Regions from separate parts of the Homo sapiens genome. Here region 2 is linked to region 1. The links come from fine-mapping of genetic effects on gene expression. Tissue or cell type: whole blood. Region 1 holds a variant in brackets; the other region holds the start of a gene. All regions are shown on one strand. Distances are from middle to middle.

Region 1 (2,684 bases):
TGCTACTGAAATAAGTTATTTGGAGTATTAAAACAAGTATCTTCCTGTGGACAACACTACTCATTTGTAATTATGTGATGGGAAGCTTGGGGAAATGTACAGGAGCTTTCAGAACTTATACTTCTGCCTCATGCCATTGTAGATGAAATTATATACTCACACTTTTAGAAATCTGAGATACACATTCACCAAAACTTTTAACCACTGTGAAAGAAACAGATAATCAGCTGTCATTATCCTTGTGTTCAAGATGAAGACCGAAACTTCATTTTCAAAGGTAACTCTGTCAGATCATAACATAAGCACACTTCCTTCAGTGCTTCAGGCCTCAGTAACAGCCAAGACTTATTTCTAAACCACACTGCTCATCAGGGTGCAGTCTATGAAAACTGCCCAGGAAACCTCCTTCCCATTGGTTCCTGAGGAGGGGAGGAACGGACAGCAGACAGGTGAGTACTCAATTTGATTATCTCAGGTAAAGCTTAGAACCCAGCAAAGGCTAACAGACAGTATCACTGGTAGCACCAAAGAAGCCATTTCAGATAATTTCTTAGTATTCCGTAGGCCTTAGTATACCAACAATCTGTTTCTACCACCTTAAAATTTAATAGCGTAGGCCAGGCACGGTGGCTCATGCCTGTAATCCCAGCACTTTGGGAGGCTGAGGCGGGTGGATCATGAGGTCAGGAGTTCAAGACCAGCCTGGCTAATATGGTGAAACCCCATCTCTACTAAAAATACAAAAATTAGCCAGGCATGGTGGCACATGCTTGTAGTCCCAGCCACTTGGGAGGCTGAGGCAGAAGTATAGTTTGAACCCGGGAGGCAGAGGTTACAGTGAGCTGAGATCACGCCACTGCACTCCAGCCTGGGCAATAGAGCGAGACTCTGTCTCAAAAAAAAAAAAAAATTAATAGCGTAATACAACCACCATTTTTGTTATAACTCACAGATTATCTGGGCCGGGAATGCTGATAGTGCACATGCTATCAGCCATAGCTGGGAAGACTGTAACACTGGGTGTACTCAAATGGCTGGGGTTTGGAATCACCCGGAGACAGGTCTGGTGCCTAGGCCAGGATCAGCAGCAGCTGTAGAGCAGAATGTCTGTGTGGCCGGGGCTTCCTCACATCGTGGTAGCCTCAGAGCAGTGCGACTTCCT[A/G]CTTGGTGGGCAGAACTGCAGAGGAGAGTGTTCTGGAGGACAGAGCAGAGCTGTGTGGCCTTTTGTGAAACAGCCTTGGAAATATGTAGTTTCATTTCTGCCATATTTTTTTGGTCAAAGGAGTCACAGGCTCAGATTCAAAGTGTGGGAACATAGACCCCCGATTCTCAATGGCAGGGGTGTCACAAAATGTGTGACCCTGTTTTAAAACCACCACAGGCCCCCTCTCCTTAGTATTCCACTGGCCCTTTATCCTGGAAACCTCAGGAAATGGTTTTTCCTGATTTTCTTCTTTAATTCTCCTCTCCCATCCCTTCCTCAATCCAGTTCAAGGATAAGGGCCTAGAACTCCACCTGTGTCCTATTCCCTCTTGAATCCACAGGTCGAGCAGGAAAGTGAAGGATGAGGCTGGCATGTGTAGAAGTGCCAGTGGAGGGCGCTGTGGCTGACTAGAAGGCCTCTACGTTTTAAAGGACAGCTGTTCCAAACGGAGGTGGGAATGAAGTCCTTGTGTTTCCAGATTTCCCATTTTAATGTGAAATTAGATATTGAAATATTGCTTCATAATGTTTTAAAAGCATACCATGAGATCTGGGTTTATGCTCTTGTCTATGCACTGGCTCTGAGCCCCTCTTTGAAAGACCCAGAACTCATAAAACAAGGCATTATTTAAGATTGCACATTTATGTTTATCCCCAGAAATTTCCACATTGGGGTCTGGAATGCCATTGCTTCTTTAAATACTACTTACTTTAAATCATATTTGCAAAGAATTCTTGTAACTGAGAATCTAGGCGCTCAATAAATAGACCGCATCCTTCCTTCATCTGCACATGAATGGCAGCATTTTGTGCATTAATTACGTGTGTGATGTGTCTAAGCTGAATTGGCTGAGGAGCAGAACTTTAATGATTAGCTGTATAAAACTGAAAGAGAGCTTCAATTTTGACGTTAAGCCTTGCTTATCTTTTATATTCTCAGCCTTTCTCGACGTTTGTTAGAATTTAAACTTGTCCTAAGCATGACAACATCTGTTCAAAAGAGAGGGGGGATAATATATGTTTATATATACACACCTTAATTTAGTATTGGGGACCTTCCAGTTACCAATTATAAGTGTAAAGACTAAATAAAAGTTATAGAAAATTAGACAAAATAAACAGTGACCAAGAGAAGATTTAAGAAATCTGAAGCTAAAGATTTATTTTTCTGCCTGCCCTCCTTGAAGTAACCATTAAGTTTATAAATAGCCTCCTTCCTCTGAGAAGAAAGGTCCTAGTGACACCAAACAGGATGCGACGCGCTGAGTACTCTCCCCTTTCATTTTGAAACTCGAGCTTTTGTGAAGACTATCATTGTGCATCCGTCTGTCTCTCCTCATTACCACTTCTGGTTGGAGCCGGAAGCAGGACAGATGCATATAGTCCTCATTTCAACCACAGGAATTGACTTTAAAGGTGACACTGTCCTTAGTAACACAGCTGATGCCCTGTAGGGGTAAAATTAGTTGTGTTTTCTCTG
Region 2 (2,684 bases), 85 kb before region 1:
CCTAAGGTTGATTACATAAAGCAAGATTCCAAAAACAAGAAAAGTGCTTTGCAAACACAGTAACTAGGACTGGCTGAAGCTTCCTGCGTCCAGTGCCATGCTCAAAGATCAGAACAAGCAACTTTATCCACCACTTTAATAAGATGATTCAAAAAAGCTGCAGTCTTCTGAAGAAAGCCATGGTTGAAAACTTGCTCCGCTTCTTGGAGAAAGCCTAAAGCCCTAAAGGTCTCTAATTATTCTCCAAAGTCTACAACCCAAGCTGCATTTTATGCATTTATTAGGTTACAAAACCACGGGAACTCTTCACTCAAAAGCAAAAACACATCCGGAAAGAGGAAAAAATCCACGGCCAATGTAAACCCCCTACAACACCAACCGCCCACGTCGTACCCCAGGCTGCAATGAGGCCGGCACTCACCCACCGCTCGCCCGGGAAGCCCAGACCCAGGTGTTTCAAAATCAGAAGTACGGCAGGCTCGTTCGCTCTCACGGGCAAGAATCTTAAACCCCAACTTCAGAGATACCCGCGCACGCTGGGCGCTGCCATTTTGACAGAAAGCGGGCCTGCCCCAGAGGCCCCTACGCAGGTCGCCCTGAGCAGAGCCGGAGTGCCACAGAACCCCTAGCTCATCACCTCCACACCCAGACGTCGCATCCCCCGGCCTGAGGAATGCCAAGAAACCCCACCCTGCCGACCAGGATCAGGCGAAATCAAGTCACCCTTGAAATCCCGCAAACTCTCTCAGGCAGCGCCGAGGGCGACCGCAGCCGGCGTGGGAGGGGCATCGGCGGTCAGGGGCGGGGCGTCGGTGCGGCGGCCTTCGGTAACCCGGGCAACGCGGCCTCCTGGATGTAGGAAGGGGCGCTGCCCCCGAAACACAAATGTCTCCGCCAAGACCCCAGACGGTTCCCAAAGGCTCTCCGTGATGCAACTGCACGTCCCTCGAATGCCTGGGCCTCCGATATCCGTCCGCCAGGAGCTTGGCTGGATGCACGGGCGGCCAGTCCTCTTATTTCCCCGCCCTCCCGCCGCGTGGAGCGGCTGCTGGGTCCCGAGCCTCCGGGCGGGGGCGGGATCGGGGCGGGGCGGAGGCATCTCCCTCCCAGCACCGCCCCCTTAGCTGCCCCGAGCCCTGCCTGCGCCCGCCCCCGAAGCGGCGCGGGACGCCTGGCGCCGTCCGCGATCCGCAGGGCTGCCCGCTTAGGCTTAGGCCCGGCCCGCTGGCAAAGCCGAGCCGCAGCATTTTATTTCGTTCGTGGTTTCCGCACAGGCTGGAGTTTCGTGGGTTGGGTCGTACTTGGGACCTCGGCGAAGAGGACCCGTTTATTTTTTTTTCTTTCCAAAATGGCAGCCTCCAGTCGCGCACAAGTGTTATCTCTGTACCGGGCGATGCTGAGAGAGAGCAAGCGTTTCAGCGCCTACAATTACAGGTGACCCAGCGGGCACCGGGGGCCGGGGGCGGGGGGCCAGGGGCCGGGGACCGGGGGTGCGGGCTGACGCGGAATATCCCCGGGGACTGGGAGCCACCGTGGTTTGCCGGCGGCTGCGAGGCAAGGACCGGGCTCCGCCATCGAAAAGCGTGCTCCTGCCTACAGGTGTGGCCTCTGAGACCTCGGGGAGGAGCCTTTCTTTCTACCAGGGGAGACGTTCATGTCTTGTGACGTTTTCCCCCTAAAGGCTATCTTGGTAGTTATTCTAGGAGCATGATTAGTGTTATGTTTCTGCAGAAGAGAAAAAAGGGATGGAAATCAGTCATTTGTGAAGTTAAGGCCAGTGTGTTGCATATGTAAAACTTCCCTTGAGCACTGGAAGAGTTGAGAGTGGAAGTGGCCAGTGAGTAGTACACTGCGACAAAGCTGAAGGCACACTCTAGCACCTCCCTAAAATTTCCTAGGTGTCGTAATGAGTTCTTTTGGTTGCAAGAATCCATTCTATTTAGGGTATGGTGGAAATGCGTAGCGGAAAAGGAAAAAGGGTCTCACAAGCTTTGGAGCTGAAACCTCAGTTTCTCCTGGCTCACCAGACAGAGATCCCGCTTACTGGACCTTGACAGCAGGATATTGAGGGCCTAAACTCACATCTTTAATATAACACATTCACTTTTTCTCACGCCTCCCCACTCCCCTATTTGCCTATGAGTCTTTTATTGTTACTCTTTGTATGTTTTTTCTAATTCAGAGCCTCTGCTTTCACAGTGTTGCTGGTTCTGACCCATCATTTTCTTATGGATTCTCTCTCTGCATTTTTTTTTAGATTTGTTTTTTGTTTTGTTTTGTTTTTACTAACTACCTGTCTCTCTCTGAGTTTGAGCCATATTCCCATGAGAAAGAATCTGGTTGGATCAACTCATCTCTTTACCTCAAGCCTCACTTAGGTGACTGGCCAGACTGTGGATTGGATGTCATAAGAGCAGAGCCTACCCTTGGAACACACCTGGTTAGGTAGGCCCCCCTCCAGCACGTGTGTGAGCTGGCAGGCCCTGAGATGGGTCTGCCCAGTACAACCTCTGTCAGAGGACAGGAACGCTAAGCCTCTTAAGCAATGACTCTCAAATTTTTAGAAACCCGCCTGGAAAATATACTCATGCTGCAAATTTGAAAACAGCATCTGGGTCATACCACTGAGGTTGTATCCACCCAGTTAAGTGGTTAAATTTCACGGGAGAGAATGATTTTACTTA

Evidence for each region. PIP is the estimated chance that this variant, and not a neighbour inherited with it, causes the effect.
Region 2: LYRM4 starts here. The variant in region 1 is fine-mapped to the expression of LYRM4 in whole blood (INTERVAL, PIP 0.91).

What each region holds. Positions count from the first base shown.
Region 1 is chr6:5,174,294-5,176,977 of GRCh38, reverse strand. The region is part of intron 2 of LYRM4 (LYR motif containing 4); the gene reads left to right. All of the region lies in intron 3 of LYRM4-AS1 (LYRM4 antisense RNA 1), which reads right to left. Among named protein-coding and RNA genes, the nearest start is that of MIR3691, 27 kb to the right of the region's middle. The variant A/G (reference allele first, on the strand shown) is at 1,163.
Region 2 is chr6:5,259,398-5,262,081 of GRCh38, reverse strand. It overlaps LYRM4 (LYR motif containing 4), which reads left to right and starts at 1,132. Exons shown (of 3, transcript NM_020408.6): 1 at 1,132-1,434. The coding sequence starts at 1,349. It overlaps FARS2 (phenylalanyl-tRNA synthetase 2, mitochondrial), which reads right to left and starts at 569. Exons shown (of 7, transcript NM_006567.5): 1 at 422-569. RefSeq lists silencers at 1,052-1,271, 1,332-1,641 and an enhancer at 1,852-1,901.